Regions from separate parts of the Homo sapiens genome. Here all the other regions are linked to region 3. Evidence: fine-mapped expression QTL. A gene starts in region 3. Each other region holds a variant in brackets. All regions are shown on one strand. Distances are from middle to middle.

What was found. PIP is the estimated chance that this variant, and not a neighbour inherited with it, causes the effect. A credible set is the group of variants that fine-mapping cannot tell apart.
Region 1: its variant is the best candidate, but not a certain one, in a credible set for the expression of LRRC69 in gastroesophageal junction (GTEx, PIP 0.65).
Region 2: its variant is the best candidate, but not a certain one, in a credible set for the expression of LRRC69 in putamen (GTEx, PIP 0.77).

The regions. Positions count from the first base shown.
Region 1 is chr8:91,224,883-91,233,073 of GRCh38, reverse strand. It overlaps a transcript of SLC26A7 not described here. Among named protein-coding and RNA genes, the nearest start is that of SLC26A7, 20 kb to the left of the region's middle. The variant C/T (reference allele first, on the strand shown) is at 3,842.
Region 2 is chr8:90,667,507-90,675,697 of GRCh38, reverse strand. No RefSeq gene overlaps it. Among named protein-coding and RNA genes, the nearest start is that of TMEM64, 26 kb to the right of the region's middle. The variant A/T (reference allele first, on the strand shown) is at 3,085.
Region 3 is chr8:91,098,110-91,106,300 of GRCh38, reverse strand. It overlaps LRRC69 (leucine rich repeat containing 69), which reads right to left and starts at 3,682. Exons shown (of 8, transcript NM_001129890.2): 1 at 3,457-3,682. The coding sequence starts at 3,639.

The DNA.
Region 1 (8,191 bases), 130 kb before region 3:
AATCAAGCAGGACTGTGGCAGCATCTTGAAAACCCAAGGCATTCTCCACCAACTTGGAAGTATTCCCAATATAATTCAATTCTCCTGATGAACATTAAGCACATTCTTAGCTAGAATTGTCAAGTCTTAATTTGTCAGTAATCACCAGCTTTCACAAATGCATAGCCTTTCTTGGAATCACAGGAGCCCCAAGAGATCAACTCATTCAATCATCTGTATTCTCTAAATGCTTTTCCCCCAGTAAAAGCAACATTTTGTTTAGATTGAAGCTTCATAGAGGTGTATTACAAGCCTGTTAGGCATAGGCAGTGCCTGATTCTTTTATACAATGCTTTGAGCCTTGTGGATGTTCTGTCAACAAACACTAACTCCATGACATAGGCCAATTTATGATGTCTGAAAACATCATCACTAAGTCTCCCCACTCCTTGCCACCTATTCAAGCATTCTGGCACTCTGATTTCCCCAAATCAAACCAATGTGATTTTTTTAGATGCCTCTGAAATTCAGCAAGACATGTTCAACCCAAAACACTGGTTATGGGGCACATGCCCTGGAAAATCTACTGGTAAAATATAAAAGGGAATATACTTAATATTGTAAGGAACGTAGTATGTTGCAGTGGAAAAGGACTTTTTTTGTTTTTAACAATAAAGTATCCCTTTCATGGAAAGTGAAGTGTGGAATCAGCAGTAAAATACTTGATATCTTTTCATCACAGATTCTCTGAGTTTCTCTAAATATTGCTCTAAAAACATAGTGTATTAGAATTCTCATTCATAATACAGACCCTATATTATGGGAAATAAAAATAGCATATTTTGGTTAGAAATAAATGTATTTGATTAGAAATAAATCTGAAAATGCTTACATTGAAAGACTTGAGTTCCATGAAAATTTCTATCAGGAAAGTAGTCCTTTATTTATTGCATATGTACTTTAAAAATACATTCAGGAAAAACTTAATTTCAGATTCATTTTGTTTTTCTTAATTAGTCATTCTGGTCCTAAAAGAACTTGTGAGCTTGAAAATCTTAGGTAGTCTTTGTTATATTACACACTAACAAAATTATACAAAATAATAGATGAAGATTTCATATACCTACTATTCTAAAAAATGACACAAAGACCCATCACTATGACTATGAAGTTGTTATTATATCAAAGGAAAAGCCATTGTAGTAATGTCAGATAATTCTCTGACCTCCAGTTCCTGCCTAGCCGTGGTAAAGAAACAAAACAGGGAAAAAAGACAATGCTCACATGTGCACACACACACATACACACACATACACACATACACACAGAGTTCCCTATGTCATACAGTATTTGCCTCCTGCCTGGAGATCAGAAACCAAACCTACTGGCTCCATTTTTTTTCTTACAGTTTTAGAATTTAAAATAATCCACCAGAAGCTGCAAGTTGAAACACAGTGATTCAAAGTGTCAGACTCTTAATCCTTCAGAAGAAACAGAAAAAGAAAAGAAAAGAAAAGAAAAAGAAAAAAGAAAAGAAAAGGAAAGAAAGGAAAAGAAAAGTATTTCATCGCTGACACAGCCAGACCTTATTAAGTGGTCCCTTTCCAAGAGTGTGCCTTCTGACTTTGCAACAGGCTCCCCGTGTGTGATTTTGGCCTTCTCGCCATTACAAGAGCCTTCTGTACATGTCCCTGTATTTTTGCTATCTGAGACTACAACATCTAAGGAAATAAGTTAATTGTTCACTTGTTAAAACTCCATATAAGACTAGTCTAAAACAGGACTTAAATTTGTAGAACAGCAATGAAATCATAGTCATCTGATGATATAAGGATATAATTCATTCCTCATCAGAATCCATGCCTTTGCTTATATTTTTCTTTCCAATGGCCTGCTGAGCATTTCCACTAATGTCCAGTTAGCATCCTTAATTTCCCACGTCTATCATAAAATCAAACTCATCCTTTTCTACCATATCCAGGCCCCCTTTCCAAATCTCTTACCTTGCTACTTGGCACCCACATTCTTATAAATACCCAGATAAAACCCAGATAAGATGGAAAGTTTCCAGCTATTCATGTCTCCACCCACTTTGCTCTTTGATGCATAGTAAGTTGATTCTCTCTCTAAAATAAAGGTCTTCTAAATCTATCTCATGGTCAGTTCCCCCTGCCATAAACTCAACTGTCATTTAGTGTACTCATGCAGACTAGTCTTATAAATTCAATTTGGTCTTTTTCCTCCTTGCTTGATTATACCCTCTTAATTCATCTTCCGTGTTGTTGCCATCACTTTTAGCCATTCCCTGTTCCGTAGTATTCAGTATACATAAAGCATAAGCTTCTAGAAATTCAAGGTCCTCCATGACATCTATTACAAACATTGACTGAACACATACTGTGATGCTAGGCTATGTGCTTTTCATAAATTGATTCATTTAATCTTTATAGTAACCCCCTGAAAAGGGACTATTTTTTATGTTACAGGTAGAGAGGTCACTGATAGAGGTCCTGAGAAGTGAGAAAACTTGCTTCTGGTCCCACTGTGGTAAATACAGGAATAGGACCAAAATGTGCCAGGAACCATCTGGGAGAAACTGTTTTCCGATTAGAGGGAATTGCATAGAGAAAGTCCCCAGGTGGGAATAGCATGGGAGCTTCAGAGCACTGAAAGGAAGACAGTTGGGAGGAAAGTGAGCCTAAGGAAAGAGTGGCAAGAGGTGAGACCAGAGAAGAGGTAAGAAAAGCTAAACCACAAAGTGCCTGTGAGAGATGTCAAGGAGTTTGGACTTTGTCTAGAACATAACTGGCAGCTAACCAATGTTTCTATGTATGCTTTGGTTCATAGCAGCTTACTCATATTAAACAAAAATTGGACAAGCCCAAATTGGAGAATGGATGAGCAAAGTGTATTACAGTTACGTTATGGAATACTATTCAGTAACAAAAAGGAACACACTCGTGATATATGCAACAATATGGATGAATCTTGAAACCATTATACTAAGTGAAAAAAAAGCCTTGCAGAAAAGAATACATATTGTATGATTCCTTTTATAGGAAGTTCTACAACAGGCAAAAATCTATGGTGGAAAAAAATATCAGAAAAATGGTTGTTTGCCGGGGGTGAAGGGGCAGCATGGAATTTACCAGAAAGCAGCGTTGCCAGATTAATTTTGAATTTCAGATAAACGAATTTTTTAGTACAAATGTGCCCTGTGCAATGTTTATGACATTACTATATAAACGGGTATCCATTGTTTGCTAACATTCATATTTACCAGGGCATTCTATATTTTTATTTGTAAAATCCAGCAACCTTACAGGGAAGGGACATGAGAACATTTTTTGGGGTGGTGGCAATGCTCCATATCTTTATAAAGGTTTGGGAATGTATTTGCCAAAGTCTTGTAAATTTGTGTATAAGAATGTTCATGTAAAAAAGATAAAAAGATAAGTATTTAACTCTAGTTAGTGATATGCACACTGAAATGCTAGAAGGGAAATATACTGATGTTTACAACTTACGTCAAAATGCATAAAAAATAAGATAGACTGATGACTGAATAGAGGAATAAATAGATATTTAATAAGGCAAATATAGTAAATGTTAATTTTAGAATCTAGGTGATGAGTATATGGGTGTTCATTGCAAAGTTCTTCCAACTTTTCTTTATGTTTGAGAATTTTCATAATAAAATGTTAGAGGGAAAAATTCATGCCCTGCCCTCATGGAATTTACACTATAGTGGAGCAAGACAGACAATAAATAAATGAGTAAGTAAACAGTAGAGTGAAATAGAAGGTGATGAGGGAGAAAGATAAGGGAAAGGCCTTTGTGCATGTTGGGGTTGGCATCATAA[C/T]TTTAAATAGGGTGGCCAGGGAGGGACTTCCTAAAGGTTGTGGGGAAATGAGCCAGAACATCTGAGGGAACAGTGATCCAGACAGAGGAAATAACATATGGAGAGAGAGACTGGCAGGATTCGAGCAGGGAAGAGCTTGGTCTGACATTTTAAAGGAATCCCTTTCTGGTCATTGTGCTAAGGACAGAAAAAAGCTCTCTGAGGCTTTGTCCGTCCACTCCTAAGTTTGGATAATGTCTTCCTTATGAGAAGTAGCAATAAATATTTGTTGGATGAGCACTTAGAAACATAAAATGAAAATCTTTTGGTGAGATATGGATATTTTATTCTTTGAAGTAGTACTTTCTTTTTCAAACCAATGTTACTTGAATGAGGCATTTTAATTGGTCGGTTTTAAAACATTTTAAACGCACTTTTTTGTCCTCTATTTGGAAAGATAAAATAATAAACCACAAGAAACCCCTGGTTTCTTCAGTCACACCAGAAAGAAATCACAGGCTTTAGTTATAATTAAAGTGACTGGAGGCTTTTTCTAATTTTACTAGGGGAGTGATGGCCGTGATCCAGCTTCCCTACTTTCCAATACACTCACTTTCTTCCTCTCTCTCCAAATATGTATCAAATTACTTACAAGAATAAAAGCCAGTAACTTCCCATAAAGTGGCCGTTGTGAAGCTCCTGGCCCATGCAGCCCCTGCCCCAGGCTGTCTGCCTGAAACTCATGATCCAGGCTTAATGCTGACCAGCTTGCTCACCTTTAGTCTGCAGTGATATTAATAAGCCCCATCTCACTTCTTAAGGCCCAAACACTTACCTTTGAATGTGTCAGAACTCTCAGCTGCCCGTGGATGGCCTGAATCTATGATTATATATCCTTTGCCTTCCGCATCCCACCTTCTAAAGCAGGCTTGCTCTTTTAGTTTTCATAGCTCATTTCCTCACTCGCCAACACCTATGTTTACTACCGTGCTGTCGTATTAACCATCTTCACTCACTCCAACCATGCATCTAGAAACAAGGCACATGTCTCCCATCACCTCAGGTGATTTCTCTGGCCCCTCAGGGCACTGACTCTAATGAGACAAGGACCTTTTAAAAGTCCCTTCTTTAATTCTGGTGTGCCATGGCTGCTCTATGAGTCTCCAGATCCCTTTTGGACTTCAGATCAGGAGGCTTCATGCCATTTGGAGCCTTGTGGCCTACAGAAGGCTCCCAAAGTACCAGCAGTAAATTTGCATCTTAAGCTGCCTAGGGACATTCTCAAGGCCACGAGGGAAAACAGTTCTTTAGCAAGAGCAAGTGACTTCCAGCCACTTATTTTCTAATAGCTGCAGTCTAGAAAATAACTTAGACAAGAAGGAACATGCAGAGATATTTTATGAAGAAATACCAACGAGAGTTTCAAATGTTATTCTGGAGATGTAAGAAGCTTCAAAATAAAAAAATTAAGTCCAGCTTCATTAAAAACTTTCTTGGTAATCTCCATTAATAAATATGTTAAGAAAGAAAACAATGCTTTTTAACATAAAAGTCCTAAAATAGCTAATATACATAATGGTTTATTGCTTTGATTATAGAAAAATAATATCAATACTTTAGCTAGATGTAGCAACTCTTTATCCACTGAATCCAACTAATACCATTGTGAAAAGTTGTTCGTAATATTGAGTAATTAAATGGAGAAAATCAATTTGGATTGCATTTACAAATAAGATACACAAATATAAAGAATCAGAGACCACATTTGAATTACTCTTAATAACTGAGGACATAAATAGAATTCATTAATAATCCTAAAATAATATATATTCTTCTGTTTGAAACTACTCCCCCACAACATAGATGTTAAGAGTTTATAACAAACAGTGAAAGAAACTTGAGTTTCTCTTTTTTATTCTCTGAGGCAAATGTGAGTGAAAAACAAAAATTCCAAAGGCCAGCCACAGAAGAGACAAAACAGGAGAAAAATTGAAGCTAGATAATTCACAAGAAGTTATTTCTCCAGTTGCTTTAACTTCATCAGAATAAAAGAAAGTTGGTTGTAATTGTTAGAAAATATTTTGCAGTTCCAGATCCCAAAAAGAGAGTTTCAGATGGATTACAGATTGACAAGATAACCACATTCTCAAACACATACACATACATGTATATGTGGAGTGAGATTGATTAAGTTTCTAATTTAATTAATCAGTGATTCAGAACATTAGTTGACCCCACAGGGCAGAAGCAGATGCATTCTTCCAGAATCTGGTTACTATGGTAACACTTGATATATGACCATGCAACCAGTAACAGTAAATTTCCTGACATCAGAGTCATGAATTTTTTTAGCACACATTTAGCCTAAGCTTTCAGCTTTTCAAATATTCAACTGGTTCCTATCCATTATATCCATAGGACTCACTCATTCACTTGCTTCAGATCTCTGATCAAATACTACCTTGTCTGATTCAGGCCCTCCATAAAAAGTATTCCCATAATTCTCTATCTTCTGGATCCCCTTTTACTTCACCAAAGTACTTATCATTATATTGTTAGCCCATTGTTTATTGTTTGTCTCCCTACATTAGCAAGTAAGTTTCATGAAAGCAAGGGCCCTGCCAGTTTTGTTCATGCCATATCATTAGAACAGTGCCTGGTAGATAGTAGCTCCTCATTAATATTTATCTAATAAGTGAATAAATGGGAAAAGAACAATTTGTGAAGAAGAGGTAATCATAAGAAGCCATTATTATATATTAGCTTTTTTAAGACTTTCATGTTAAAAACCATTGTTTTCATCCTTAACGTATTTATTAGTGGAGATTACTGAGAAAATTTTAAATGAAGCTGGACTCCATTTTTTCATTTAATAAAGCTTCTAAAATCTCCAAAATAACATTAGAAACTCTCATTAGTTTTTCTTCAGAAAATACCTCTTTGCATGTTCCTTGTTGTCTAGGTTATTTTCAGGACTACCACTGTTAGAAAATAAATGTCTGGAAGTCATTTGAGGTTCTATTTTAGATGTCTTGAAATTGAGAAGCTTGGAAACATAGGTTAAAATGGAGAAACAGATTTAGATACTACCCACCGAGGTGTGGTAAATGAAGCTAAATGAAACTGGTGAGAGTAGAGATTCATTTGATAAAGAAAAAGCACTCAAAGAGAAGAAAATGAGACTGAGTAGAGAATCCTCTGCAACACATGGTTTTGAGAGAAATACAGAAGAGGATTCTGTTAAAGGGATGGGGAAAAGGAATGGACCTCAGGGATGTAGTTCCAAGAGGCAGGAGACAGCCAATTAAGCCCAACCTTCCATGGAGTACCAGCCAGAGGAGGAGCAGCTGGACTGGGAGTAAGTCACTGATGACCTCTGAAATGCCAGTTGCCATGACATGGAGGAACAGAAACCAGGTTGCAGTACCTTGGAATCTGACAAGGACAGGAGTAGAAAGGAGAAGTTAGGGAGCCAACATTTTCTTTTGTGTCACCTGAGATAGATGGATGGATAAAATTTTCTCCCCACAACCAAGACAGCAAATACATTGTAGCTGAGATCATGGGGTTAAAATGGTAAAAAAAAAAAAAAAAAAAAAAAAAAAAAAAACACTTTTCTAGGGGGCAGGGCCAAGATGGCTTACTAGAAGCAGCATTGTTCAGAAGCTCCCATCAAAAAAAAAAAAAAAAAATCATAATAAGCATGTGAATCCTTCACCGGCAACCAAGGTATCCAGGTTCCCTCATCAAAATTGACTAGAAGGCTGGCAAGACCCACGAGAGAAGGAAGAGCAGTGTGCTGCAGCAGCCCACCTGATAGCCACACAGGGAAGGGCAATCCCCTCCCACCAGAGAAGGGAGGCAGTGAGTGAGCATGCTACTCAGCTGGGGAAACTGTGCTTTTTCCACGGAACTGTGCAACCCACAGATCAGAAGATCCCACTTGCAAACCCATGCCACTGGGATCTAGCATCCCAACCCCAGAACTCGCAGATTCTTATAGCCTCTCAGCTGGAATCTGTTCAAGCCTAATGAACTCCCAGAAGGAGGAGCAACCAGCACCTGCTGCCACTGCCTGCTGTCTAAGCCATTTGAGCTCCTTGGGGAAGAGGCAGCAGCCAGCACTGGGACTCACAACTGCCTAACACGCAAAGCTCCCTAGGCAAGGGAAAGGCGGCACCCATTTCTATAGCTCCAGGCTGCGCTTTTTCCCCTGCTGGGGCCAGGGAGGCTGGATGGCTTGGTCCCAATTCTTGTCCCCACAGCCCAACGCATTGGCTGTGTCAGTCGGTGGCCAGAGTGCCTCTTCAGGTCTAACCCTGACCCATCCTTCAGTGGGTAGGGCTTCCCTGCAGGATCTCCAATAACTCC
Region 2 (8,191 bases), 430 kb after region 3:
ATATAAGCACAACCAGGGAGCTTCTTGTCTCACATACCATTCTTGGGATGTATTAATAATATACTAATAGTTGTCATATTATTTATATTAAAATCATGCCACTCATTTCTCTAAGAAGTATAGTAGCTATACCCCATAGGGCTAATTTGTAGCTAAAGACATTCGTATGATAAATTCAATCTACCTCTCTGCATCTTATAACAGTGATTATTTAAGGCCAAATCAACTTGATCCTGGGTATTAGGGTAAACGCTAAGCTTCTTTAAGAAAGATCCCCAAATACACAATGGAAATGAGACAAATGTTTATTTCACTTTTATGTAATAGGGCAAGGTAGCATAGTGGGCCAAGTCTACTCTCCAAGGACATCCAGCAACTCAGATTCCCTCCACAATGCTGCTCTATTAACCCCTGGGACTCAGTCCTCCTCTGAATAGTCAAATTAGCTTGAAGCTTTTCCTAAGGTCTAGTCCACAGGAAGACAAGAGAAAGTAACTTCCTTTGAAGCAAGTGAGGTAGAAGTTGCACTCATTGCTTCTGATCACTTTCCATGGTGATATTTAGCTCTATGGTCACATTTTGTGCAAAGAGAATGGGAAATATGGTCTCTAGCTGGATATCCATGTCTGATTAAGAATGGAAGGGCAGATTTGGGGGGCCCACTAGCAGTCTGCCACACTCACATAATGCATGCTATACTTGATGAGTAAATGATTAATTGGCACATGAGATAACAGTCCTTTCTCCCACCCAATACTGATCTCATTGAGAAACAAAAGAATAACAGACAGAAACTAACGTAACATTTTTATTAATAATAGAGGCCAGATTGGAGAATATAGCTTTATGTCTGTTAGCCACAGGAATTTGATAATGTCAAATCTCAGAATACAGCAGATTTAACCAAGTTCAAGGCAGCATTGGACCCAAACGAGTCTTCTTATATGGGAGAAAGAGCTTGTCCTTGGAGGAGAAGGAGAACATATGCTCTCCACAAGAAATGATGCTCCTGAAAGGAACGATGGCTGAAGCTCAGCCAAGGATACTTTTACTCTAATCAAATTTACTACATATATCATTGGTTCCACCTCGCTTGAGATGGTGTGGGTGAAGGAGTAGAGACAGTGCAGCATGTTCTTAGGCATACTCCTAAGAGTAAGAATGAAGAAATCAAATATGTGACTGAAATCAAGCCAAATTGGCTATCAATGCATTTCTAAAATCCCCAGTTCTTCACCTTTCAGTTTCTTTTGGTCTCAGGCTAATCTCTTCACCAACCCTTCCTGCTGTAGCTCCGTTCCTTCTAATGTATCTCTGCTCTTGCTAATTTCTGCTGCATACAGTTTGCCCTCTCTTTAAGATTTTTTTCTCCACTAATTTATTTTCACTGGGAATATTTTACACAACACTGTCTTCAGAGTTCTGGTAGAATTACCTTTAAGTTCAGTCTTAGACTTCTTCAGAGGAGGGAGAGGATGTTTGCCCAAACTGTGATTAGTGTTTTTGAGTGGTTAATCCTAATGTATACTTACTGAAACAAATTAGGCAATAGCACCTCTGTTTATTGCATCCTCCACATGACACTACTTGGAGTAGCCTTTGCACAGATCCTTGTTCAGTGGAAATACTAATTTAAATGGTGGAGTGATTCCTTTGAAGTATCCAGAGCTTTACCTGATTTTATATCAAAAGCTATCACTATGATCACCCATATAAACAAAGGTATCAAAATGGTATTTAGTGCTATAGTACCCTCCAGCAACACTGTTGTAACTCTTCCAGAACCAAATATATTCACAGAACCCCAAACTCAGAAAAAGTTGGGGGCAACTTCAAAGGAGCTATCATTTTACTATATTCTGAAGCAAGGAATTGAATGTCAAATTCATTCCTTCCCACTCTGCTGAATTTGCTCTGATATATCAATTATGAAATAAGCTGGTCCCATATTAACTGTGGGAAAAAGTTGCACACTGACTTGAAATAATATGTGACTAAAATAGTATTCATTTATTATATAGGGAACTATAAAATAATATTGAATATTATTGCTATGAAATGCTTATTTTAAGTGCAACTAATGCCAGTTTTAAAAAAATAGCTGTAAAATGGCATTTTAACATCCAACACATGAAATCCTGAAAAAGAGTTTTTGGACTCTTTTCTTAGCATGTTTTGCCACAAAATAGCATTTCCAGTATTATAGTACATATTAAACTATATTAGCATCCTCTGATTACTTGTCTGTCTTCTCTAATTGGCTGTATATCCCTTGAAGGCAAATAGTCATCTCTGTACCTCCAGAGTAGTATAGTCTGAGCTCCATGAATAAATAATTAATGAAAGCTCCTGGAGCTTCCAGGGTCAAGGTTAATAGTACTATACTTAATCGTCTAATTAGTATTACTACTTCAAAAGCCTCAGAAAATTGTGTCACATGCTGAATCTTACAGCCTAAGTGGTTAACATGGTGTAACAAGAGTACTTTACTCACGTCTCAGATTTCACTTTCTGTTCCTCTGCTTTTGTGTGAAATGTACTGTTTTTTTTGTTTATATTTTCCCTTTTCCCCTCTTCTACTTGTCATTCCTCCTCTGCATAGCTGTTCCTATTATGGAAATAAATTATGTTTAAATGTTTATGAATTGAGCAAAGTTGAACTTTCCTGGATTAAATAGCAATACGGTATTTAAATTACCATTTTTTTTTCTCAGAACGAACATCTTTCTGGATTCCTTTTAATACTGAGGGCCTTATAATTTGACAATGTAAATTAAAAGGCATCTAACATAAAAATGATACATAAATTTGTTTTTTTAAAAAAAAGCACACGCATCATATGTAAGAATTTATCACTATCTTCTGCTGTCTCAAATTTCCACTTTAAAGAAATATAAAAATTTGTGTAAGACTAGCAAGCAGCAACTGCTTTTATAATTGACTTTTCCAGTCCTATTCATCTTTTTTGATTAAACATAAGGTATAATCTGTTGAAAATTCAGTAATTCAAAAAATGAAGAATCATTTTTGATATCTATGTCTAGATTAAATACTGAAAAGAACTTTTTGTAAGGTACTTTACAT[A/T]AGTGGAACTGTGGGGATTATCTAGAATAGAAATACCATTGTGCACCAAGGGTTATTTGTGACCATGTGTAAATACAAAAATAAATTTGGCCTATAGTTTAAAATTTTACTTATATGTAACTTTATTGATAAATTTTCATGCAGTAAAAACTGTATTATACTGTCCAGAATTATATAGATGTATTATATATTGCAGATAGAGATGTATGCACCATTTTATAATATCAAAAAGTTAGAGGTATGTACTTTGGAGTTGAGTTTCAGATATCTTCTAAAATTAATTTCTGAAATAGTAATGTAACAATTTATTTTTCCTTCTCTTTCTAATGAAATATAAGAATTACTGAAGCATAAACATAACTGATCATGAATAGCTGCAGCAACTACAATAGTTAGCATACACATTAGACCTCTAATGGTCTTTGAATGAAAACCTGGAGGTAATCAAATGAGCAAAGTGACAAAAAGAGATTACTGATTTGTCTGCAAAAAGGGATTGCTGAGTGTTTCATTCATTTATCCAGTGAATGGCTATTGAATATCTAATATATGTTAGGCCAGGTGTTGGGCCCAAGGAATCCAGCAGTAAACAAGACACAGTCTTCTGTACTCTCGTGGTTTACAGTCTAGCTGAAACAAAAATTTTCATAATGAAATTACAAGTGAGCATACAAAAAAAGGATGGTTCATTGGGCTACAGACTCATAAAACCTAGTCTGAGAGGCTAACAAATTAAAATGTGTGTGTGTGTGTAATTATGAGTTTAATTTTCCTAACATAATCAGTTATTTAAATGATAATACTTCCAGAGTTAATCTTGGTTAAAGACTCTGTGCTTTAGGAGACATGATGAAGCCCTCCCCTAAATACCTTCCCCAATAGTGTTCTGAATAAAGGTTACAGTCAAGTGTATGATTAAATGCCATTCAACAGGAAAAACAAAATCTATTGAGTGCCTAATAAGTGCTGGAGAACAAGACAGACATGTTTTGGCCCTCGGGTAGCTTCCAGTCTAGGAAAATGATGGCTGTTGAAGAATAATACAACATGATGAGTATCTCAGTGGGAGAAGGCCAGAGAGCCAAAGGAAGATACAATTTGGAAGCTGAGCCAGTCAGCTGTTGGCTGAAGGTTTCCAAGAGATTCGCAGACAAGTAAACAGCTCTACCTTTGGCACCTTTAGCATTCTGTGGGATTTGCTGTTCTTTGTCTCTTATAGAGTGTGTCTTTTCACATAGTTTTCATATTAAAATGCTCCCTTTTCCCCCAACACACACACTCACACATGCACACCAATGGCTCATGACTGGGTAACACAGGTAAGATCAGTTTTACGTTATGAAGGAGAACTGATCTTTTACCCTTGGCACTTTTCTTTCTTAAACTTGACTTTCCCCCTTCTTACTGCTGAAGTTACAAGACTCTGAAAGCAACAATTAGGGCGTAGGCCTAGGGCAGTGGAATCAAAGGAGCCTCTTTGCTTTCTTTTCATCTAGGCTTTAGGCCAGCGGCACAAAAGGAGACTTTGCGGAATGCCATGACTCAGCCTCACTCACTAGGGCTCTGGTTTAGTGCCAGAGACTCATCGTAAAGAATGCGTGTGTGCTCAGACTTTTTCATGGGTCCCTAAGCAATCAAAAGATGGCTGATTTATTTTTTAGAGACTTGAGAGTTCCAACAAAGCTTCTTTTTAACAGAGATTTATCTAACAGAAAACAAGATTACAATATGTTGTTTTCTTTAGGAAGGATACTCAAAATTTGCAATATTTTTGTTGTTTTTAAAGTATAGAACTCTAGTTGACATTCACACCGTTTCCACCAGTTTAGGGAGTAGGGTTGCTTGCTTTGATAAGATCACATGATATTGATTGAGCTGATTTTTCTAGGGTCAGGTTTTCCCCTGTTGTCAAGAGAGAGGTCACCACAGGCCTCCCTTCCCTCTTGCTTCCAATCAGATGGCTGGCAGAACAGGGTTGGAAGAGAATTTGGGGATAGAGGGGTTGTCCTCTCTTCCTTCTTCTCTCTAAGTTCGGAGCACAGCCTACACCACATCTGCAGTACACAGGGAGCTAACAGGGTCATCTTGTTTGTCTTTCTCTCCATTTCCATTAGTGCCCACTGGAGTCTAAGAAAAGGAAAAGAAATGAAGAGAGAGCATCCTAAGAGCCTGCCTTAGCTTGAGGCTATTCAGGCCTAATAAGCTCAGGAAAAAGAAGCCTTTCATGTACTCAGCCAAGCTTACTAGAGCTTTGTAGTGGCTTGAAGCTAAATTCCTAACTAATAAAGTTTTTTTTTTTAACTGTTGTTGCTTAGTTACTTTCTCCCTTGAATCATTTGCTTTATGAGAATACACCTCTCAGAGGTATCAGGGGAGGAGACTTAGTTAAGGCGAGTTTAGAAATACTCTTAGCACTCTGACAAAACACATTAAACAGTAACCCAATCTCCCTCAAATTTCTAAATAATGTACACATGAACTATTGATTTAAAAGTAAAAAATGCTGTTTTTTTTGTAGAATATATTTTACTGATATTGGTGTCAGTAAAGGCCTTGACATTCACTGTAAACAGCATAATATACAGAGCAATTACATATTTGTAAACCAATCCATGGAGTTCAACAAAATCTTGACAGTGAAGCCAAGACTGCCCACGCTGAATAAAGGATACCCATACTACCACCTACACTGTTCATGAGCTGCTCCACTTGACTTGCTAAATTTAGAATTAGAGAACTATTAAATATTAAGAGAGAGGAGAATGGTTTGAATGCTGGTAATAAAATATATCTACCGTGAGTTACTTTGCAGCTATGTGGTTGAAATTTTACAATGAATAGAACTACTAATCGCTGTAATATACCATGCTAGACTTTCCAAAAGCAAGTGCTAACATAAAAATTTCCCTTTGCACACATTCTTAGAAATGGATATTATCTGTTTTTAGCAAGAGTGTCGTGTAAATTCTGGCATTTATATACTGAGTCTCAAAGATCTCTACCTACATGGTTTTCATATAAGTAGAGATCTATATGGTTTGCTGCTCTTACCCACCCTGTGAGGTGAGTGGGTCAGTCACAGCTGTTGAAAAAATAGCTTTGTAGAGTTCCCCTTCTCAGCTGGCTGCTCTTCTTATTCATCGGGGTGTCACATATATAGTCTGAAAAGGCATGTTAAATATTATAGTAATTTGAAAATGAAGCCAAAAATGTTGGTTTTATAATGTAGAACACAAAAACAAAGCTGGAACTAGGTGGATGTTGAGGCTAAGATTCTCAATGATAATGGGGTGGGGGAAAAGGTGTTCTGTTTATTCAAAAAAGGCATGGGCTTTAGAAAACTGATAGATAATCTTTTTCCTAGATGATCTCACACACTGCCTTGGTTTTACCAACTACTAAAATACTGGTATCTTCTATATTTGCATCTTTAGGCTGGACTTCTCTTTCATCTCCTGACTGGTATATTCATTTACTTACTTAAAAACTCCTTGGAAAAAAAAAAAGTCAGCTTGATTCATACTGTCTCAAGGCATGAATGAATGGTCTTGCAGAAGAGGTTCTTCTACAGCATCTGCAGATAAATAGGTTAAGGAAGGCAAGTTATGGAGGCAGCAAACATAGATGGCCTTCATCAAATCTGTTGTGTTCAAACTGCTTTAGTTGATTCTTTATAACATGATTTTTCTATTTCTGAAAAGTAATACAAATTTTTAAAATTCTAAATTATTTTTGATCTTTAACAGCCCCTCAAAGTGAGATAAGCAAACCATTAGGCTAAAACCAGATTTAAATTAAGCACAAGTTACTAGTGGGTTGATTCATGACAGGCATTAGCCCTCTCACAGATAAAATGTCTACATAGTCATTACCAAAACATAATATGAGGTTATCTGTTGTTATGCTAATAGGTAAATGCTTAAACAACAATTGCAAATCAAGTTTACAAAAGCAAATGTGATACCTACTAATTTACAACTGAAATAGTGATTATCCCCTTATTTTCAGAAATTGATGTTTCAAAACATTGAATCAGCAGAAAAGTTGGACCTTGAAACAGGAACTGCTACTTAAAATAATTAAGACAAGGAATCACACAGACCTTTATATAAGGCTTTAGTGATTATTAAAAACTCCTATACTAGCCAGAAATGTATGAATGCATGACTCCCACTGGCTTTAATAGACATTTTGTGTAAACTCAGCTGTAATATTTACAACTGGGAGGTATGTTTTTCAAGGTTTTTCTGCGGATATTTGCACAATGAAGCTTCTCTTTAGTATTTGTCTATTCTTGCTCTTATTTCTCATTGATTTAACTATGTATCATATAATAGAAAACATTTCACCAGGGGGAACATTTTTATATTTGTCTTAAAATATGAGTAGTTCCATAAGTGAATGTTGTAAGTCTTAAAAACCTAGTGCAACTTTATTCTAAGTCCTATTTGACATTTTTCTTTGTGTTTTGAAGTTGAAACTGAACACCTGGAAAGCAATATTACTGGTTTAATATGTCTCCACTTATATATTTTATTTGAAAATGCCCATAAGAAACCTTACTGAAAATATAGGAAAGAAGATTCACTTCGAGAAGCAAAATGGCTTTAACGCAACAAAAATCTTTTTCAGAGTGAAAAAGCAGCAACACCAACACAAAACTGATTTTATTCTTTCTACCACCTGAATCATGCTTAAAATAAAGTGCTTTCTGGCTGCTTGAATAGAACAACAATGGATTTCATGATAACTTTTCCAAAGATTTATCAAACAATATATTACCAAAAACCAATACTGCTGAGATAAGCTATACATAGAATTTAATGGCAAAAAGATAATTCATTAAAATTATATGCATCTACATATGTATACAAATACATTTCAAGCCTCTGTCTAATGAATTGATAACCACCATGTGGCATTCTAAAATCATAGTAGATACCTAGGTACTTAAACAAAAATATAATTTTATCACCTTTTCTTTTTAACTTAAGCTAAAATTGAGTATGTCAGTGATCCCATTTGATTTTTCTCTTCCATTGGACAATAGTTTCTAAATATCATTTTATACTTCTCATTTACAATGAATTTGGATTAAGTAAAATAT
Region 3 (8,191 bases):
CTTCAAAAGATAAACACTGTAGACATAAAACAAAATGAAACAAAAGTCATAGGTAGATGGGTAGCTTTAAACATTACTGATAAACGGTATGACTATAGCCACATAAGAAAGAGTTCAAATTAACTTTAAAAGTACACGGGAATTTTAGAGAAAACTGTTAGAATAAGAATTATAATCACTGAATTTTGACATACACATCACCAAGTTATAAAGCCCACAAGAGACACTCTGTGGCATCAGTCAGGTCAGCTGAATGTCACAATACACCCTGCCCCTTCTCTCTGCTTTATTTTTCCCCTTAACACTAATCACCGCCTCACGCCCTATTTTGCTTATTTGTTTCTTACATCATTCCTGACTAAAACATAAACTCTATGAGGGCAGAGATTTCCACCTGTTTTGCTCATCACTGAATCACCAGTTCTGAGTGCCTGAGACACAGATGGTCCTCATTGCTTATTTGTGGATTAAATAAATGAAGGCAGAAATTGAGGCCCAAAGAAACTAAGTGCCTTGTATATAGCTGGTAACTGCTGAACCAGTTAAGTTGTGCCAGCACTTCTAAACTCTCCTTTTCAATTCTCTAAGCTGTCTCTTTCTTTGAAACCTTCATCTGCCTTTCCTTTTTTTTTTTTTTTTTTGAGACAGAATCACTCTGCAGCCCAGGCTGGAGTGCAGTGGTGCAATCTCAGCTCACTGCAACCTCCCACATTCCGGGCTCAGGCAATCCTCTGGGACCAGAGGCACGTGCCACTGTGCCTGGCTAATTTTTATTTTTTTGTAGAGATGAGGTCTCACTATGTTGCCCAGGCCAGTTTCAAACTACTGAGCCCAATCAATCTGCCCACCTTGGCCTCCCATACTGCTGGGATTACAGGTGTGAGCCACTGCACCGGGCCATCTGCCCTTTACTACCAACTGTGAGACGGATGGAGCTGTATATCTGAACTCTATGATAATCTACAACCATTCTTTGAGGGTTTCTAGCACATTTTATCTAGCATGCTTCTAGAACTCCCATTACATAGGGAAAATTGTGTTTTTTTTTCCAAAATTCCACAATTTCTCCAAGACCCTATATAAGAAAAACTACTAGTTCATGAACAGCTAAACATAATACCATTGGCCTGAATCTGACTTTTAAAGTACTTTAAAGACAGAATAGACTATAAGCAGCCTAGTTGCAAATCAGTTGAATTCTTAGTGGTGTAATTTCTTCTTTAAAAGTAAGCACTGGGCTGAGACAGCTCCCTGGTGAAGGAACTAAGAGTGAACAAACAGAAGTCAACACGTAGGTTACCCCTAAATAGAAGAATGAGAGGGCAAGTAACAAAGGGAGCCACAAGAAGAAGACAATGTAATGATAATCAGACTCTTGGGGCTTTTTCCTATGGAAATATATCTTGGAATGTGTAACTTTTTACTAAACAACTATTAACCAAGTGTGAGACAAGAATACAGAAATTTTCAGATATGCAAGGGATCAAACAATTTAACTACCACATACCCAGACTAGGATGATTTCTCGAGACTCCTGAAAAACTAAGAGAGCAAGCCAAGAAAGGAAAATACAGGATACAGGAAACAGTGGGTCCAATTTAAGAGAGCAACAAAGGGAATGTCCTTGGCTGACAGTATCTAGCAAACCTAGATAGCAGTCAACATAGAGTGGGGCAGAGGATGGAGGGTCTTAGAGGGAAGTCTCTCAAGGAAAAGTACATTTGACAGAAAAAAATTATACAGTTTGAAATAAAATGAGGCTACCATAAAACTAAGGCACAAGAACAAAGGAAAGGTTATTAGAAACTCCAAGGGAACAAAAATGGCATATAAGAAAGAAAATATAATCATAGATTAATTGACTCCATGTGAATATTTATTTATTAGTAATATATATTTTTAGAAGTTTAGAGTTACCCAAGACACAAAACAAATATTTAATTATGGTTATAACTGAATAGGATATAAAAGCTGTAAGTGTTATAAAAGTAAAAACTTCAGAGTTTGTGAGGGGGGAGAGGAAAGGACAGCTGAAGGTGGATTACAAAGGCTGACACTGTCATCTTACGAAGTGGGGAGTCAAAAGAGACTGCAGTTGATGAAGGAAGAAATAAAGGTGTAGTAACATTACATGTAAAAGATACCTGTAGACCTAATCCCCTGATTCCAGATGTGGATCAATACACAATAGATACATTAATATAACTGTATCTAGAAGATGAAGAAAAATGATGCCAAAAATAGACAAATCAATAAAATAGATGAGTTAAAAGTGGTTATATATGGAGATCGGGATTGAGGATGAGGGGAAGTGGGATAGAAGATAGCTTCTTGCTATAAGCTTTTTGTAATATTTAATTCTCGGTAACCAATGGTTAGTACTACTTTAATGGAAATAAATTCAAATAGAGGGAGAGAATAGGTTCATGACTCAGTCAAGTCCCAAATTCTTTTGCAAAGAAACTCCTCTTTCCTATTAAAAAATTCCAAGTCCTTGTTGTCTTGTAACTACAAGTATACCTTCTGCAATTACTAATGAAGGGGGACTTTGTAAAAGTTACCCTATTTCTTATAAAGATACAACTACAGATTACAAACTCAATTTCTTAAACGTAAAAGGAAATGAGGTAGGGTGAAAGTAAGAAAATACAGATTTATTTTTTGGAACTGTAAATTCAAAATTAATGAGCTATAACGCCTTAGCTGCTTCTAGGTTCTTCCTGTGCTGATGACAATTCAGCAGTGAACAAAAAGAAAATTACAAAGTTAATATCCCTTGCCTTCTCTCAACCTCAAGATTTTTGGCAGCTAGAGTTTCACATTGTTAGGCAGAAAGGTTTAACACAAGCATATGGGATTCATTCATGTCAACTATTCCTCTTTAAAAAAGAATATTTTTTATTTAAAATATTAAACTTCCTTTAAAGACTATTTCAGGAGAAATAAATGTCCCCTCCTTCCTATTCCCTGCCAACACTCCATTTCAAAGTTTCAGCCTGCCCTAGGAAATTGAAAAGGAACTCCCTTGCTGCATCCTAAATGTCTCTTCATTCTAAATGCAAAAGCTTCAGGACAGTCCCCAGGGTGAACAGCATCTCCTGGATCCTCAAAACTACTTCCAGATGTAAGCCCCCAAGATAGACGACCAGATCCAGGTTTCCAACCCCTTTCCAGATGACAGCCTCTAAAAAGATGAGTGTGGCAGAGACCTAGTCCCCTGACTCCAGATGTGGGCCAAAGAGCACATGAATAAATTGAAACATCTCTCCCTACCACATGGAATTCCCTAAGGGAGAAAGCCTTCTGATGCCTCTCCAGCAACACTCCACATTAAGTCTCCAGATACCTAAGTCTCCATAGATCGAAGTGTTATTGTTCTGTCTCTTACCCCTTTTTTCTCTCTTCCTGTTTTCCATCTTCAATACCAAACCACAACAGCAAAACACTGTTCCTCACCTGGGTCAAGTTGCATAACTCTGGACACACTTTGGGGATTAGGTTATTCTGAAGGACTAGAGTCTTCAGGCCAGGCAGTTTTCCTAATGCTGAGGGCATCTTTGTCATCTTCTTCCCATTCAAAGTAATGATCTTCGTATTTTTACCACCACTCAATGCTTTTATTAACAATCTCTCAGTCATGATCTTGGAAAAGAAGTAGAAAACAAGGTAACCATTAGAGTTCTTTATTATACAGCTTTAGAACCTCTAATTACAGAATTGGTGTGTCATAGAAACAAGAACATTCTGAGATCCACCATGTTGAAGGGGGGAAGCATTAGATTATTTTCCTATGTGAAAGATACGAAAGGAAAGTAGATGGTCCAGGTTTGGGGCAGGAAATGTATAATGTAAGCCTAAAATAGCTTATGCCTGCGATATTAAAGCTATCAGAGATTAATGAGGACACAGAAGTGAACTTCTAGGAGCTCCCACTAGTCTAAGATGGAAAATATTAAGGATCAGAAAGAAATAATCTAGAATAGACTGAAACATATCAAAACACATTAAAATCTGAGTTCATAATGGCATTTTTTAAAAAGAAACATTACTCACCCTGGGAATTACTAGCGCACCAACTCAGTCTGAAAATTGATAAAGGAAAAAATATAAGCATTTATTCTGCTTTTCCAGTACAAACTGCACTTAAATATAACTTAATAGTTAATAAAGTTCTTATTCACAAGAATTGAAACTAATAAATGAGAAAGACAAAATAACTAGAATAATCACAATTTTTGCAAATTCTAATAAAATAATGGAGCTATGCAAAAATCATAATTGGAGACTGAAAGTATTAGATGAAAGGTTGATGAGGAACTTTATAATCAAGTGATCAGGTTAATAACCCACTAATCATTTTAGCATCAATAAAATTGAGACAATCACATTATAAGCCTTATGAAGTAATGAATTAAAAAGTACACAGCAGCACCACCTATGAAATGTTCCTGTCCAAAAATTAAATCTGAATCTAATCATGGCTTCAAGATCTAACTACCATTTACAAAAAAACAGAACTAGAGAATAAGTTAAGTTCATTATAGGGAAACAGTCAAATCTATAACATGGAAGATTCTACAGGACTGGTCCCTGGTCCAATGTCACAAGGTTTCACCAACAAATGAAAGACATTAATAAAAAGGAGGGAAAACTGTTACGATGTAAGTGAAACTTAGGGCAAATAACAGCTAAATGCAATGTCTGGACTGTATTTGAATCCTCAGTTGAATACAAACATCTCAGGGAAATTTGTTCATCGGCTATTAGATGAGAGAAATTAATTCTGTTACATGTGAAAATGGTATGGTGGTAGTATTTATTTTAAATGTGCTTAACATTCAGAAATGCATACTGAAATTTTCAAGTGAAATAAAATGATATCTTGAGTTTTTTTAAAAATAATCTAGGGGGGAAAGTGGGTGGAAGAAACTGATCAAACAAGATTGACAAAATGTTGATAATTATTAATGCTGAGTAATAGACACATAGGGGTTTGTATTTGTCCATTCTCGCACTGCTATAAATACCTGAGACTAGGTAATTTATAAAGAAAAGAGGGTTAATTGGCTCACAGTTCTGCAGGCTATACAGGAAGCATGGTGCTGGCATCTGCTCAGCTTCTGGGGAGCCCTAAGGAAGCCTACAATAATGGTGGAAGGCAAAGGGAGAGCCAGCACTTCACATGGCCAGAGCTGGAGGAAGATAGGAAGGAGGTGCTACACACATAAACAACTAGATCTCAGGATAACTCACTCACTCACTAGCAGGAAAACAGCACTGAGAGGATGCTAATGCATTCATGAGAACTCCACCCCCAGGATCTAATCACCTCCCACCAGGCCCAGTCTCCAACACTGGGGATTATAATTGAACATGAGATTTTGGAGGGAACACAAATCCAAACCATATCAGCATTCATTATATTAGTCTTGTTATTTTTGCATATGTTTAAAAATTTCCAAATAAAAGATTTAAACGGTGACAAAAAGGAGAGGGAGGGGAGTTGTGGCCAGTAACATTTGATTATTATCACAAGCCCACTAGCACCCAGATAGGATGAGTCTTAGAGGCATTAGGATTACACATGTATGTGACACACTTAGATGTGGGTTTCCAAAAACTTGAACATTATAAAATACATTCTGCACTGAAAGTGATCTGAACAGAAATCAATCCTTCCTTTGGCATTCAGAAATCACTTTATTTATTTATTCAACAAATATTTACTGACCACCTACTACATAGTCAACACTGTTGCAGGAGTGAATGAAAAAGATAAAAATTTCTGTTCTCAAGGAAATTCCATTCTAGTAGGGGAAGAAAAGCAATCAGATAAGTAAATCTATTATGTTAGATGGTGATTTGATGCCAAGGGGGAAAATCTAAGCAGAAAAGAGAAATAGGGAGTGTGGGAAATGAGAAGTTTACAATTTTAAATAGGATGACCAGGAAAGGCCTCACTGAGAGAATGCTATTAGAGACAAGACCTCTTCCAGTAAGAGAGTAAAATCAAGTGCCAGAATTCTAAAAAAGGATCATTAAATTTTTAAAGGGATTATAATGAATATCAATATCATAACAGTAAATCAAGAGATGCTAATAGTGACTTTCAGTTGCTAGAAAGATAATTTTTCAGCTTCTTAATCACTGCTGTTTGCCTTCCCTCTTCCAAACCTATGCTTCGTCTTCTTTACTTTGATATTATTTGTTTCCTAAGAATAATAAAGCTGTTACTATCAAAACAAACTGATCACAAGGCTTTGTTTAAAAAAAAAAAATCCATGACAATCACCACCTCTTAAGTAAATATCGGGTGGCTAGCATCCCAGATGACACTGTCCAAACCCTGGAAATTTGTTACTGCTTTAAGTAGGTAAACAAACCAATACAATCTGACACTGCTTTCTGTTAATCTGCTGAACCTAGAAAACCTGGTTAACATTCTTGAGTCTTTCTTCTCCCTTACTTCCAATATATAATCAATCCTATTCATACTGTCTATTCCAGTTATCTATCACTGGGAAACAAACCACCACACATCTTAATGGCCTAAAACATTTATTTTATTGACAAATCTTTTTTTTTTTTTTGAGACAGAGTCTCACTCTGTCGCCCAGGCTGGAGTGCAGTGGTGTGATCTCAGCTCACTGCAAACTCTGCCTCCCAGGTTCATGCCATTCTCCTGCCTCAGCCTCCCAAGTAGCTGGGACTACAGGCACCCACCACCACACCCAGCTAATTTTTTGTATTTTTAGGAGACAGGGTTTCACTGTGCTAGCCAGGATGGTCTTGATCTCCTGACCTCGTGATCCGCCTGCCTCGGCCTCTCAAAGTGCTGGGATTACAGGTGTGAGCCACCACACCTGGCCTTTATTGACAAATCTTAATCTGGGCAGGGCTTGCCTATAGTTCTCTTAGTGACAGCTATAGCAGCTCAAAGTCTGCAGCAGAAACCATCTAAAGGTTCACTAATCCACATCTGGTGGTAGATACTTCTTGTTGGCTAGGGCCTCAGGGTGGTCAGCCTCTACATGTAGCCTCTCCAATGTAGCTTGGACTCCCTCCCAACATGGTGGCTTGGTTTGAAGGTTGAGCATCCCAAGAGAGAAAGTGGAGTGGAAGCTGTATTACTTTCATGACCTTGCTTCAGAAGTCATACAGAATCACCTCTACCACATTTTATTCATTAGAACCAAGTGACAGAAACGAGCTCATATTCAAAGGAAGACAAATTAGACTCTGCCTCTTGAAGGCAAGTGACCAAAAATTTGTGGACATGTTTTAAAACCCACCACAATCCACCCTGTAGCCATGAGCTGTTTACATTCCTCCCATATGCAAAACAGAGGCACTCTTCCTGGAAAGCCCCTTTCCCCAAAAGTTTCATCTATTTAGAACCTCAGGTTCAAAGATCTTATCATCAAAGTTAGGTACAAAGGTAGATGAAGCTCCTCTGAGGCAGTTCCTTGAGTTCAGCTTGAGTGCAGTTCATCCTGACCTGAAGACCTATCAACTAAAGAGACAAGTTATCTGTCCACACATACCTAGAATACAACATAGGTAAAACAAAGGGCAGGCAATAGTTAGTCCCATTCAAAAAAAAAAAAAAAAAAAAGGGAAAAATCAGAGGAACAAAGTAGCCACCGGTTCATAGCAATTCTGAAATCAAATGAGGCACAAGGTTGTCATTATTTTTGTTTCTTGTTTGTTGTTTTTGAGATGGAGTCTCGCTCTTTCACCCAGACTGGAGGGCAGTGGCACAATCTCCGCTCACTGCAACCTCCGCCTCCTGGTTCAAGCAATTCTCCTGCCTCAGCCTCCCGAGTAGCTGAGATTACAGAAACGTGCCGCCATGCCTGGCTAATTTTTGTATTTTTAGTAGAGACAAGCTTTCGCCATGTTGGCCAGGCTGGTCTTGAACTCCTGACCTCAGGTGATCCACCCGCCTCAGCCTCCCAAAGTGCTGGGATTACAGGAGTGAGCCACTGCACCCAGCCCACATGTACTGCCTGGGATTAGCTTTTGGTTCCCGTTTGGGCTCTTGATTCCATCCTCTTGAATTTCTTTCCTTTTCCATAAAATGTAGCCCATGTTTGCCAAGTAGTTTCCTCAGTCTGCTTCCTGTCCATAGAAGTTCAAGGTGCCAAGGGCCTCTCATTTTAATTCTTTTTTGATAACAGCTTTATTGAGA